4 linked regions of the Homo sapiens genome follow. The protein of the gene in region 4 purifies or fractionates together with the protein of the main gene of each other region. This does not show direct contact. Each region holds a gene or a part of one and is shown on either strand. Other genes may lie near its edges.

Region 1 (3,500 bases), on a different chromosome or scaffold from region 4:
AAACTCGGATTATCATTTTTATTCCATTAATAAGAAATGGATAGGCTGGGCGCGGTGCCTCACACCTGTAATCCCAGCACTTCGGGAGGCCAAAGTGGGCAGAACATCTGAGGTCAGGAGTTTGAGACCAGCCCGGTCAACAGGGCAAAACCCCATCTCTAATAAAAATACAAAAATTAGCTGGGCGTAGTGGTGGGTGCCTGTAATCCCAGCTACTCAGGAGGCTGAGGCAGGAGAATTGCTTGAACCTGGGAGGCGGAGGTTGCAATGAGCCGAGATCGCGCCACTGCACTCCAGCCTGGGGGACAGGATGAGACTCCGTGCGCCCCCCAACCTCCCCCCGAAATAAAACTTATTTACTGATCACGCTGGGCCTGGTGGCTCATGCCTGTAATCCTATCACTTTGGGAGGCCAAGGCGGGTAAATCACCTGAGGTCAGGAGTTCGAGACCAGACTGACCAATATGGTGAAACTCCGTCTCTACTAAAAATACAAAAAATTGGCCAGGTGTGGTGGCAGGTGCCTGTAATCCCAACTACTCAGGAGGTCGAGGCAGGAGAATCACTTGAACCCGGGAGGCAGAGGTTGCAGTGAGCCGAGATTATACCATGGCATTCCAGCTTGGGCAACAAGAACAAACTCCATCTCAAAAAAAAAAAAAAAAAAAAAAAGACGTATTAACTGATCACAGTATGAGGATGTGACTTAGATCCTGATTTTTCAAAACTTTTTCAATCCATTTATGACCAATGAAAATTTGAATCTGATCTGACATATGATACTAAGGATTTTTTTGTTATAATAGCATTGTAGCCATGTTCTTAAAAGAGCTCTTATTTTTTACAGGTAATATCAAAATATTTAAGAATGAAATGATGCAATGCCTTTGATTTGCTTTATTTATTTATTTTTTTTTGAGATGGGAGTCTCACTCTATCGCACAGGCTTGAGTGCAGTGGCACAATCTCAGCTCATAGCAACCTCCACCTCCTGCGTTACAGTGATTCTCCTGCCTCAGCCTCCCCAGTAGCTTGGATTGCAGGCGCCCGCCACCGCACTCGGCTAATTTTTGTATTTTTAGTAGAGACAGGGTTTTACCATGTTGGCTAGGCTGGTCTCGAACTCCTGACCTCAGGTGATCCACCTGCCTTGGCCTCCCAAAGGCCATTACAGGCATGAGCTACCACACCCAGCCAATATGCTTTAAAATAATATAGGAAGACAATGACAAATGCTGATAACATTGTGAAGAAAGAGAACTCTCATAAATTGCTAGTGGGATGTAAAATGGTAGAGCCACTTTGGAAAATAGTTTGGCAGTTTCTTAAAAAGTTAAACATAAATCTATCATATGACCCAGCAATTCTACTCCACTCCTGGATATCATCCAAGAGAAATGAAAACATATGGCCCCACAAAGCCTTGCAATGTGAACGTTTATGGCACCATCATTCATAATGGCCAAACAGTGGAAACAACCCAAACATCCATCGACTGGTGAACTGCTAAGCAAAAGAAGATATATCCACACGCTGGAAGACCATTCAACAGTAAAAAGGAATGAATTACTGACACATGGCACAAAATGAACGAAGCTCAAAAAAGAAAGAAAGAAAGATGGGCACAAAAGCCTACCTATCGGCCGGGCGCAGTGGCTCACACCTGTGATCCCAGAACTTTGGGAGGCCGAGGCGGGCGGACTGCTTGAGGCCAGGAGTTCGAGACAAGCCTTGCCGCCATGGCAAAACCCTGTCTCTACTAAAAATACAAAAATTAGCTGAGCGTGGTGGCAGGTGCCTGTAATCTCAGCTACTCGGGAGGCTGAGGCAGGAGAATCGCCTGAACCTGGGAGGTAGAGGTTGCAGTGAGCCGAGATAACGCCATTGCGCTCCAGCCTAGGCAACAGTCCGAGACTCCGTCTAAAAAAAAAAAAAGAAAAAAAGCCTACTCATCCTGTGATTCCACTTACATTAAACATCCAGAAAGGGTAGGTTTATAGAGACAGAAAGTAGATTAGTGGCTGCCTGGGACTAGTGGTGGGAATGGGAATTGATTCTAAACCAACACAAGGGATCTTATGGGGTGACAGAAACGTTCTGTGGCTAGATTGTGGTCATAGCTGTACAACTCGGTAAACTTACTAACAATCATTGCATTATACAGTTAAAATGGGTGATCTTATGGTATGTAAATTATACCTCAATAAAGTTGTTCTTAAAAGGCAAGGAGTATTTCCTGCTGACAGGTCTTTAAAAAAATAAACAAAAATAATAAATAGCCAGGAGCGGTGGCTCACGCCTGTAATCCCAGCACTTTGGGAGGCCGAGGCAGGTGGATCACCTGAGGTTAGGAGTTCAAGACTAGCCTGATCAATATGGCAAAACCCCATCTCTACTAAAAATACAAAAATTAGCCAGGCGTGGTGGCGCATGCCTATAATCCCAGCTACTTGGGAGGTTGAGGCAGGAGATCGCTTGAACCGGGAGGCGGAGGTTGCTGTAAGCTGAGATCGCGCCATTGCTTTCCAGCCTGGGTGCCAGAGCAAAACTCTGTCTCAAAAAAAAAAAATAATAATAATAAATAAATAAAAAGGCAAGGAATATAGGGAAAAGTCAAAAGAGATGGACTGTGAGAAGACTGGGAAAGCCAGAAGAATGGTGGAAAATGTAGCATGGAGTAAGACAATAAAAATATAAGAGGACTCATTTCTAATTTTAAAAATAATAAAAAATAAGAACCAGAAATTGATGTATGTGGGATGAGGCAGAATCAGCCATGTGTTGATGGTTATTGAGGGTGACAGGCACATGGGAGTTCATTATGCTATTCTATCTGCTTTAGTATATTGGAAATTCTCCACAATAAAAAGGTTGTTTTGCTTTGTCTTTTTTTTTTTTTTTTTTAAGAAATAGGGTCTCACTCTGTCCCCCAGGCTGGAGCCATTATAGCTCACTACAGCTTCTGACTCCTAGGCTCAAGGGATCCTGCCACCTCAGCCTCCCTGGTAGCTGGGACTATAGGTATGCACCACCACATCTGGCTAATTTTTGTTGCTGTTGTTGAGATGGGGTCTTGCTCTGTCGCCCAGGCTAGAGTGTAGTGTCGCCATCATAGCTCACCGCAGCCTCCAACTCTTGACCTCAAACGAGCTTCCCTAAGTGCTGAGATTACAGGTGTGAGCTACCAGGCGCAGCCAGGTTTTAAGAGATCAACGCATACTCCTGGTACTCAGTGACCTCTTCATGTTATCCTTGCCATTATGGGTCTCTAATCTGATCAAGTACCCTATTTCACTCAGTCTCAAGCAAAACAGACAATCTAAAGTTGCTGCTCTGACAGGCTCTCTTCAAATGATTTCCATTTCCTTGGGCAAGAACTCAGAACAAGCTTGTCCAGGATGCATGCGGCCCAGGATGGCTTTGAATGCGGCCCAACACAAATTTGTGAACTTTCTTTTTTTTTTTTTTTTTTTTTTTTTTTGAGAAGGAGTCTCGCTCTG
Region 2 (3,500 bases), on a different chromosome or scaffold from region 4:
CTCCCAGGTTCAAGCAATCCTCTTGCCTCAGCCTCCCAAGTAGCTGGGATTACAGGCATACGCCACCAAACCCGGCTAATTTTGTATTTTTAGCAGAGACGGGGGTTTTGCCATGTTGGTCAGGCTGGTCTTGAACTCCTGACCTCAGGTGATCCACCCGTCTTGGCCTCCCAAAGTGTTGGGATTACAGGCATGAGCCACCGCGCCCGGCCCACTCTGTCTGCTTTCTAAGTGGACTAACTGCCTGCCCCTCTGCTTGGCACACTCGGATCCCACATCTTCCCATGTTCCCAAACCCCCTTCTGCGCTGCTCGTTCTGGATTGCAGTGAGGCCCTTTTTTCCAGCCCCATTGTTCTTTCTCCTTCGTCATGGCTAGCGTCTCTGGCATATTGGGCCCGGAGGGTTTGCTGGCCTTGTTGTTGTATCATCTCTCCTGGGTCAGTCTTTGTCCCTTCTTCCAAGTCCTGCATTTTGGGGTTCCCAGTACAGTTCCTGACATGGAGGAGGCTTCAGCATTTGTTGAAAAAATAATAAGGATGTCGCCCGGGCTGGAGTGCAGTGGTGCAATCTCAGCTTACTGCAGCCTCTGCCTCCCAGGTTCGAGCAATTCTCCTGCCTCAGCCTCCCAAAGTGCTGGGATTACAGGCGGAGCCACCGCGCCCGGCCAAACTCCCTTTTTCAGTGCACAACCAAAAATCAGAAAGCCACTGTAAAACCCAGTGAACATTTAGCATGTTGTTTAACAACTTTTCACAAGCTGACCCTGACTTTCCGGAAGTGAAATGAATATGGCAGAGTTTATCTGAAGATCCACAGTCTAGAAACGGAACTACTGCTCTTTTGAGGGGCGCCATCTCAGTGGCATCACTGGAAGGTCCAGATTGCCTGCCACACTGGTAATCAATTATGGGGGGGTCAGGTGCCAACAGATGTCTGGCTTTAAGGGATTTAAGTCCATGCTGAAAGGTGGAAAGGGAGAAGAGGACATAGAAACAAATTTGTCTTTTCAGAGCACAAGGCTTTTGTGTGCTGAGGTGGCCATGTGTGTCAAAGTCAGGGAGCCCCTCTTCCTGGGAGCCGAGAGGAAGTCTCTCAAAACTAGAAGGGAAAGGTGCTTTCCCCACATCAATCCAGCTTCGGAGACATTCTATTCATGACATATGCTCCTTTCCCCAGAACAACAATGAAGCGTTCTGTGTGCTAACAACATAGCTTAGAAAACAAAAATTCTGCGTTTTTATAAAACTTGATAAAAAATAGTATTTCAAACTGTACAGTCACCAGAAGTACACAGTTATCCAAAATGCACACGCTTCCCTCAGCATCTCCAGCAGGTGCCTGGTGTGTTCAGGCATCTCCACTTCCCATAGAGTCATTCCCCTCCTCGCCAGTGTCAGCTTTTTCCTTTTTCCCTTGGGTACCTTCTCTCCCTTCTTTGCAGTGGCCTTTTTAGGCCTGGGCTCTGGCTTTGGAGGGAGGAGCAGGTTTAGCAGACAGCCTCACAGATCTTCTCTGTGGTTCGTCTTTCACCTTGGCCTCATCTCCCTTAGCATCCCCTTCAGCCTTTCTCTTGGGCATGGTGGCAACGAAAGCAGCCGGACGTAGGCACTGGGAGCGGGATGCAGTGGCGGTGCACGGACTGCGCTCAGTCGGGGGTCATTCTCGCTTCCTCTTCTTCATACTGCTCCAAGACTTATTCTTTTGCCCCAGATAAAATGTTGGTTTAGATTAATCTTTACTCCCTCCAAATGTTTCTAGCTGTTGCATCATGAGTGCTTTGCTTTTCTGCTTTTTTTTTTTTTTTTTCTCCAGACAAGGTCTCTGTTGTCCAGGCTGAAGTGCAGTGGCACAGTTTCAGCTCACACTGCAGCCATGACCTTCCCTGGCTCAGGTGATCCTCCCACTGGGACTACAGGCACTTGTCACCATGTCCAGCTAATTATTTTTTTGAGATAGAATCTCGCTGTGTCACCCAGACTGGAGTGCAGTGGCGCGATCACGGCTCACTGCAAGCTCTGCCTCCCAGGTTCAAGTGATTCTTCTGCCTCAGCCTCCTGAGTAGCTGGGATTATAGTTGTGCGCCACCATGCCTGGCTAATTTTTGTATTTTTAGTAGAGACAGGGTTTCACCATATTGGCCGGGCTGGTCTCGAAGAACTCTTTTTTTTTTTTTTTTTTAATGAGACGGAATCTTGCTCTGTCACCCAGGCTGGAGTGCAGTGGCGCGATCTCGGCTCACTGCAAGCTCTGCCTCCCAGGTTCACGCCATTCTCCTGCCTCAGCCTCCCGAGTAGCTGGGACTACAGGCACCCGCCACCACGCCCGGCTAATTTTTTGTGTTTTTAGTAGAGACGGGGTTTCACTGTGTTAGCCAGGATGGTCTCGATCTCCTGACCTCGTGATCTGCCCACCTCGGCCTCCCAAAGTGCTGGGATTACAGGCGTGAGCCACCGCGCCCAGCTAATTCTTGTATTTTTTGTAGAGACAGGATTTTGTCATGTTGCCTAGGCTGTTCTTGAACTCTGGTGCTCAAGTGATCTGCTTTCCTCAGCCCTCCTAAAGTGCTAGGATTACAGGCATGTGCCACCGCGCCCGGCATGAAGTACTTTTGTTTTTCTTTTTTCTCCTTTTTAACATAGGAGCTTTTCTTAAAACTTCAGAACATTTTTATTTTTCAGAAACAAGAGTTGAAATAAAAGAATCTGTTCGTGGCCAAGATATTTTCATTATACAGACAATACCCAGGTAAGAGGACTGACTACTTTATCTCTTTTCTGTAAAAACCTTAACAATATAATTGATTATCTTTTCATATGAACAACAACTTAGTGTTTTTAAAAGTTATATATTCAGGCCGGGCGTGTGGCTCACGCCTGTTATGCCAACACTTTGGGAGGCCGAGGTGGGCGGATCACGAGGTCAGGAGTTCGAGACCAGCCTGACCAATATGTTGAAACCCTGTCTCTGTTAAAAATACAGAAATTGCTGGCTGGGCACGATGGCTCACGCCTGTAATCCCAGCACTTTGGGAGGCCGAGGCGGGCGGATCACGAGGTCAGGAGATCGAGACCATCCTGGCTAACATGGTGAAACCCCGTCTCCACTAAAAAATACAAAAAAATTAGCCGGGCGTGGTGGCGGGCACCTATAGTCCCAGCTACTTAGGAGGCTGAGATAGGAGAAAGGCGTGAACCCAGGAGGCAGAGCTTGCAGTGAGCCGAGATCGCGCCACTGCACTCCAGCCTGGGCTACAGAGCAAGACTCCATCTCAAAAAAAAACAAAATAAATGAATAAAAAACAAAAGTTAGCTGGGCATGGTGGCATGCGCCTGTAGTCCAGCTGTTTGAGAGGCTAAGGCAGGAGAAGTGCTTGAACCCAGGAGGCAGAGGTGAGCTGAGATCGCGCCACTGCACTCTAGCCTGGGCGACAGAGTGAGACTGTCTCACCAAAGAAAAAAAAAAGTTATACATTCGTTTGCATGTTAAACTAAATGCTTCC
Region 3 (3,500 bases), on a different chromosome or scaffold from region 4:
CCCTGGATTATCAGACAAGGCCTGAGGCTCAACTTATAAAAATAAATTGTTTTCTGCATCTGGATGCTGATGAGACATCATGACTCAAGCTATTCCCATGCTCAGATTCCCAAGCACTCTGAGCCCTCTCTCATCAGTCACGAGGAGAGGAGAAAGTGCTGGACTACGAGCACAAAGGCCTGGCTCTGACACAACTGCTGTGTGACACTGAGCAAGTCCTGCCCTCTCTGAGTTTGTTTCTCCATCTGAGATGAATAGGGGGAGGTCTGTATTTCTGCATGGGTAGGAGGTATTATTGGAACAGACGGTCTCTATGGATTTTTCAGCTTGGGGTTTCTCGATTATTTTTAAAGCTGGACATGCCATCTGGCTCTGTCCATGCTCGGGGAAGGGGATCTCAGGATAGAGGCCTTGATTGGCTGATTCAGCAATTCTACTCAGCCTCATCACTAAATGAACTCACCAGGTTTCACCTCCACAGTGGTCCGGTCTGTGTCACTCTCACCCTTTGCATCGGTCACTTTCAGGTGAAAAGTGTAGGTTCCCTCAACCAGGTTTGAAAGAAAAAGGATAGGGTGATGGTCAGAGTGATTTAACACCTCCTGTAGGGTTGAACAACATGGCTATGTTACAGAACAAAATGCCATTCCTTTCCTGGAGTCAGTTGCTGCTTTCACCATAACTAGGCCCTTCAGGGCTGAACTGTTTCAACCTTGGGCAGTTCCTGATACGGAACAGCATTGCAGCCTACAACTGCTAGGATCAGGGAAGGGAAACCCATTCTGTGCTATACTAGCTTACAGAATGACCCTAAGCAAGTCACTTCACCTCCCTGGATTTCAGAGAACAATCTGGGTTTGATATAAGGGACCACTTGATTAAAGCATATACTGGAACGCGTGGCTCCTCCTCCTCCCCACTCCTGTGTAGCTCTCCAGCTCCTAGCACACTTACCCCTGCTGCTGGGCTCCCCTCATCTCGAGTCCAGAGGTAGCTGACTATTCCCTTGTCATCTGAGGACTTAGAGCCATCCAGCTCTGCTGTGCTCGTGGGTAGGGTAATCACCACATTCCCAGTTATCTTGGCTATAGGTGGTTTGTTTATTTCTAATCAAAAAGAAATCATTGACATAATGTGACATTCTGGAAAAGAAGAAATGTTTCTTCATGATGCTTATGGGGAAATTAAAACATCAAGAGTACCTTAACTGGAGAACCTTTTTAAGTGCCTGTCCCTGCCACCAACCAACAGTGTAGATGAAAGCTACCAGCGCTGCAGTCCTGAGGTTCCAGTCCTACCCAGAGAAATGTTCTCCTAACACTGTACAACAGAGGGGACGAGTGTGCTTTCCTCTCATATTCTCCCAGCAGCCTTCCCAAATGGAATCCATTTCTCTGCTTTGGAGGTATGTGATGATCAGAAATAACGGCCCAAACTGGCTTAAAACCTTGGAGTTTAGGTTTCACCTAGCTGATCTTGCAAATTCTCCTTCAAAATATCTTAAAATGTTATTCTCTGAATATCTTTTTGGACCCCTTCCTTGGAACTTCACAAGAGAAAACAAAGAGCTACCTCTCTTATTCGGAGCCCCACGTGAAGCTCTGTATATTCAGATGTCTGTGCAGTATTTACTCAGCTTGGTATCTTATGTCTGGAGGTCTGCATATCTGATGGTTTTTCCTGCTATCAACTTAAGGCCCTCAACTTAAGGCCCTCTCCCACAGCTCTCACTGGTCACTGTGCCTGTAAACTAGAGCAAGGCCTCTGGCTGGCCTCAGCTCAAAGGCTCAGGGCAAGCATAGTCAGCTGTAGTGCGGCCGTCATTCTCAAGCCTGACAGCAGGTGTCACTGTAGCTAACAGGAGTCACGGCCCAGGTCTCAGCAATGCAGAGGGGCAAAATAAAAATGCAAAGAATAGAACCCTTAATTCTTTCCCTATTCAACTGAGAAATAAAGTAAGGAGGGAAGGAGGGAGGACTGAAAAGAAAGTAAGGGGATGAGAGGGAAGGGAAGATGTAAGCAGGAGGAGGGAGGGAAGTTAAAATTCACCTTACAGTCCAATTAAAGGCTGTTTTAGAAAAGAAAATAACAATTGCCCTCACCCCAACCCTCTTACCCACCTCTTGCTATCTCTAATCAATTTCTGCAGGCAAACATGACAGGATAAATTCTTCAGCTATCTGACCCTAAGAGGCTGCTACACAAACTGGAGGCAGAGAGGTACCTTCTTTGACAATGACATTCACAGAGCTCTGGCTTTGCAGGTTCCTCTCATCTTTGACAGTCAAGGTGAACACATAGGTCCCCACTTGCAGCCCAGTCACAGTAGCAACACTGCTGTTAGCATTCTCGAGCTGCACCCCATCAGGTCCCCTGCAAAAAAAGAAACTAGAGGGTAGAGTTGTACCTGTCTGCTGCTGTCCTGTCCCTAACTTAGCAGGAGGAGACAATGACTCCCTCAGCAAAGACACGAACTACTGTTACCCAGACCTTGACAAGACATGTTTAAAAATATTTCAATTGGACAAAGTGTCATTTGGCCTCAAAATACAGGCTGCCTGCTGGTCAGAAAATTCAAATAGCTTTCAAACACCTCTAGCCTTATCCTTTATATGAGCTTCTAGAACACTTGAACGCTTTACCATTCTAGTTTGTAAAAGGAAGAAAGTTCTCTGAGCAAGTCTCTGATCAAAAGAATGATTTAAGAGTGATGTTTCTAAAAAGCATTTCTGGCCCAGTAGTTGGTTTGGCTCTTGCCAGCAAGGAAGCAAAATGCATTTCTTAATCACGTGCCCAAATCCTTCCTGATGAAAGAAAAGGAAATGGGGCAAGACTGCAGAGGAACTCTCAGGACAAAATCATCTTGTTTGTAGCAACTCTATAAGCAAAGTTCCCTCCAGCTCCTGGACAGGGGCCATCAAGCACCTAGGACACCCTACAACCCTTCTTCCCCCTTGTGGCCTCAGAGACTTGCCTGCAGCAGCCAAGGGAGCTCTGTGCCAACATTCAGGCTGCACACAGCCAGAGAGCCCTCTGCTCAAGGATCAAAATGCCCCAGAGCTTTTAACTACAGGAAAGCCAGAGAAATCTGCAGACATCCAGGATTTACTTTGTTTTGCCTTTTAAAGTTACAGCCTCTGATCCTGGTAGCTCCTCCTGAAGCACAGTCTCCTTCAAGAAGCTATGCTAAGCATTATCTCTGCTGTAAACACTAATAAAACTCAGCTAAAAGGTCTATCAGCCATATCTTCAATAAACAATTATAATTAAAAACACCCTGGGCTGGGTAAGATTATGTTCTACAAAAGATAAAAACAAGAGCTGAGGGAAATAATTTCTAGATTCCAACTCAGCAATCTCAAAAGCAAGTCATTTGTATAGTCAAATTAAAGTTCTTTTCCACCCATCTCCAATGCCTTTGTCAAACAAACAAACAAACAAACAAACAAACAAACACAATACAAAAAAAAACCCAGGCTGTCCTATGGTTGCTACCTTTG
Region 4 (3,934 bases):
AGACACAGTTAGAAGGTGTGCTTCACTGCTTTATTCTGCATATGCCCCAATGAATTCCAGGAGGTCACAGCAGCAGAGTACAACTTTTAAGATTAGAAGAGCTTGCTCTTTAAAGAGTTATTTTTAGCTGGAAGGGAGAGTGTAGACCTCAAAGTGCTGGTAGGTATGTTCTACAGTGGGGATCTAATTTGGAGGTCTTTGGAGATCTGATTCCAGGGGAAGGTCTCAGTGGGGCTCCTCTTGCCTCTGCTGCAGGACTGGGTGGCTCTGCTGATTGTCACTGCCTTGTTTGAGGGGTGGTCTCCATCATCCAGGGGAATTCAGCCTGGGACCTATTGTCTAGAGTGTACATTGTATCTAGGCCCAGACCTGCCAGAGTGTCCACAGCCACACTTGAGGAAAGGACATTCCAGACTCATTAAATATCACAATTCGATTTTGATGTCACTAACTCAGGTTCCTGAGATAAATTTCCATACAATTCCTACAGATTGATATGGATATGTGCATCACCCCAGGAGAGGCTCTGGTGAAGGGCAGGCTTGGAGATGCAATGGGCAAGGTTGGGGAAGAGATACCCTCTTCCGGGTTCCGATTTGTGCCCTGAATTTGGGCAAGCTCAAGGAGCACTGGCAACCCCACCAGCACCAGAAGAAGCTGGTCCTGGCTGTCTCCCGAGACTGGTGAAACTGCTCTGGTGGTGGTGCACTGGAAGGGTGGAGGAAAAAAAACAAAAAACAAAACAGGGTTTGAGGGGGAATGGCAGGGACACGGTAGAGGCACAGAGATACAGAGACCTAGAGTCAGAAATCCTGAGTGAGACACACAGAAAGGCAGAAAAAGGCAGAAAGATGCTGAGGGACAGAGACGCAGACCACAAGAATGACAGAAGAAGGAGACAGAGAGAGAGAGGGAGTGAGAAAGATACTGAGAAATAGGGACAGTAAGGGAGAGACTGAGAAAGACAGAGACAGCCAGAGTCGGAGCACAGAGGCCGAGTCTGGGAGACGCTGGTTGAGTGGGAGGTGTCAGTAGCGAGGGAGGTGGTGACGGCTCGAAGCATCCCCCGTCCTCCTCCTCCCCCTTCACGCTCAGCCCAGCCGGCGGCGAGGAGTCCAGAGGCCAAGGTCGCCCAGTCCTCTCGGCTGTCTCGAGCTGAATGGCTGGCAGTCTGCGGCTCCCCCGCCTCCGGCCCGGCAGCCACAGGTCGGAGGCGCCCGGCGTCGGCGCTCGAGGCCGGCAGGGGCGCCCTGCACCCTCCCGCGCCCTTCCCCGCCCTACGCGACTCCCGGCTGCTCTTCCCGCCACTCCCCTGGGCTTTGCGATCTTCCCTACGCCCCCCGGGAAGGGGGCGCTGCGGCCACCGAAGACACCGCGGGAGCCACTTGTCCCTGTGGGCCCAGCCCGCGAGAGCCTGAGAGCCGGATCTGTTTACACAGGGTACTAATTAGTCTTTGAGGAATCATTCACCCACGTGCCAAAGTAATTGTCCGTGTCAGGAAGGTAGGCGTGCCAAGCCGCGGCTCTGCGGAGAAACCACGACCACCGCGGCCGCCGGAAACCCAAAGCGCTCCAGAGCGTCCCCGGGTGGCCGGGCAGCACCAGGGACAGCGCCCGGGACTCCACTGGGGACCGGCTCCTGGGCTTCCCAGCGTCGCGGGTAGAGGTACAGCTGCTCCGTGTGCCGCAGGCTCCAGATTCTCGCCACCCCACCCCTCCCTCAGAAACTCGGACTGCTCTCGTCTGCCGTGTGGTTCTCTTTTCTTCCGAAAGGCCAGTGTCTTATCTCTCCACTTCAAGTCCAGAGGACTTGCTCAGTCTCCTCCCCTTAAGTCATTTCCACCATCCTCAGGCAGCTGTGGGAAGCCGAGAGTCCTGGACTGTTCGTCCGGGTGCCAGCGCTGGCAGTCCCAGTCCGTCCGGTGCAGCAGCCCGGCGCATTCCCCTCTCTCCCTCCCTCTTGCTCTCCCTCCCTTTCTGTCTTCCTCTCTTTCCTCCTCTACTGCTCCCTCCCTCTCTTGCCTCTTAAGTTTCCTGCACCGTGAATCCAACTGTGCCAAGCCTTGGCTCCCGCGAACCAATCCTGAGCGCGACCCGGGCACTGGGACGGCGACTCCGCCAAAGCTGGACGAGGCAGCCGGACCCGTCTGCGCTCGAGCATGGAGACGGAGCGCCTGGGAGGGCACGTCCGGGGCGCTGGAGACGCCAGGCCCGAGTAGCTTCTCCATGGAGCCTGCCCAGAGCGGTCCCTTCTCGCAGGATTCGCCCCAAGTCCTGTGCGGTACGTACCCTTTGCCTCCGCTGTTCCCGGAGGGTACACCTGGGAGCGGGGTGGTGGGCACGAGGAAGGGACGGCAGGGAGGGGCGCTGGTTAGGAAAGAGAACAAGCCTGGCAGGTGACCCTCACAGCTCGGAGGAGGCTTCTTCTCTAGAAGTTAGCGACCGGCTGTACCCTTTGGCTCGAAAAAAGTAGTGCTAGAGATGTGACTGTGAGCATTCGTGGGTATCTCTGTGTGCGCCAGGGGTTCGAATGGGTAAACTGATCCCTGCTTTCCTGTATGCAAATTGCATTCTCTTTCCCCACCCCCACTTCACCGAACGTGTTGAGGTACCTAGCACCTAATCGCGGTCAGTTCTACCTACCTCTTCCTCTCACCGCGCCCCCCTCGCTCAATCTCTCTCTCTCCCTTTATCTTTCCCCTCTATCTCTCTCTGCTGGTGTGTACGTGTGTGAGCACTGCCAGGGCTGGCGAAGAACCAGCCGCCGCCTTTAGTCCGAGCCGCCGGGCCACCCAACACAAGGGCAGGTCTCGCTGCCGGAGAAGCCTGGGCTCCGAACCAGCCTGCACGCGGCTCAGTGTGCTCCGCCGCCTGGGAACTCGCACCCGAGGAGCGCAGGGGGCAAGGAGCCCCTCACCCTCCCTCTCGTCCGCCCGCCCGCCTCCCCAGCTGCGGACCGCGCGCTTGCTGGTCTCAGGCGCTGGATTTACTCGCTTTTCAATTTTTCGTACCCTCCCTCCCTTTTTTTTTTGGTCCCCCACTCCCCGCTACGACCCCCTTTCCCCGCTTGATTGTCAAGCCTAACCTTGCCCGCGTAGTCATGGGATGTCTAATTTTATTTGCATCTAGGCTGCTGAGAGCGCTCCTTGCTCTGTAAAGTGGATGTCAGGTGGATCTATGTTTCTGAAGGAACAAAGACTCAAAGAAGGCACCGCCAAGGAAGTTTGAGACGCGGGAGAATGCAGGCTGCGTGCTGGTACGTGCTTTTCCTCCTGCAGCCCACCGTCTACTTGGTAAGTCTTGGAAGGTTCGGGGCTTTCGCATTTTTACCCCGGCCGGGAGGCAAGGAAACTGGGGACACGCGGGAGAAGGGTTACGCCGCCAGTTCAGTGAGAGCAGCTTCCTAGCAGCTGTGTTGGAGCAACTTTGGCAAGCTGGTCTCTGGATTCCTGCGGATTTTCCGGGGTTCCCACCCCATTTTCTGCTCCAATCCCCCAGTCTCCTGCGCGTGATTCTTGAAAGGGGCTAGGGCGCCCCAGACACCCTAAACCCAAGGAGGTAGTGAGATGGGGTGCTTTATGTGATAGAGGGCCAACGAGAAGAAGTGGAAGGCAGGAACTCTCAGTAGCTCATGCACAGAGTTTAAACGAAGGGAAGTGGGGGTGTAGTTGGGTGGTGGAAAGAACAAATCTGCCCAGGTCTGTGAGTTTAAAAGTGAATCTACCCACCCACTTCCCCGATTTGGAGATGAGACACATAAAGAAGCGCAGTTAACTTTCTTTGACTTGTAAGGGTTCCGACAGGATAAGTTTAACTATCAGGGGTACTGCAAGCAATCGGAGTTAGGACAGAGATACTCCAGCAAACATGTCCACCTTCCTCTCGTCTCGACCTCCCCTTTTCATCAAATAACTAAATCCCATCTCCAGTGACT

What was found. The genes of interacting proteins can lie anywhere in the genome.
Region 1: the proteins of NXPH1 (region 4) and GPR107 purify together in Homo sapiens (affinity purification with mass spectrometry; one large-scale study listed by BioGRID and IntAct). This does not show direct contact.
Region 2: the proteins of NXPH1 (region 4) and PRPSAP1 purify together in Homo sapiens (affinity purification with mass spectrometry; one large-scale study listed by BioGRID and IntAct). This does not show direct contact.
Region 3: the proteins of NXPH1 (region 4) and KIAA0319L purify together in Homo sapiens (affinity purification with mass spectrometry; one large-scale study listed by BioGRID and IntAct). This does not show direct contact.

What each region holds. Positions count from the first base shown.
Region 1 is NC_000009.12:130,056,906-130,060,405, reverse strand, and holds part of GPR107 (protein GPR107 isoform 3 precursor), read right to left. Parts: intron 1-3,500. UniProt on the Homo sapiens protein: Has been proposed to act as a receptor for neuronostatin, a peptide derived from the somatostatin/SST precursor.
Region 2 is NC_000017.11:76,343,917-76,347,416, reverse strand, and holds part of PRPSAP1 (phosphoribosyl pyrophosphate synthase-associated protein 1), read left to right. Parts: intron 1-1,135; exon of another isoform or gene 1,136-1,688; intron 1,689-2,679; coding exon 2,680-2,746; intron 2,747-3,500. UniProt on the Homo sapiens protein: Seems to play a negative regulatory role in 5-phosphoribose 1-diphosphate synthesis.
Region 3 is NC_000001.11:35,449,404-35,452,903, forward strand, and holds part of KIAA0319L (dyslexia-associated protein KIAA0319-like protein), read right to left. Parts: intron 2,389-3,500; coding exon of another isoform or gene 2,374-2,388; coding exon 2,225-2,373; intron 1,107-2,224; coding exon 955-1,106; intron 603-954; coding exon 464-602; intron 1-463.
Region 4 is NC_000007.14:8,432,475-8,436,408, forward strand, and holds the start of NXPH1 (neurexophilin-1 precursor), read left to right. Parts: upstream 1-1,134; 5' UTR 1,135-2,281; intron 2,282-3,129; 5' UTR 3,130-3,239; coding exon 3,240-3,293; intron 3,294-3,934. UniProt on the Homo sapiens protein: May be signaling molecules that resemble neuropeptides and that act by binding to alpha-neurexins and possibly other receptors.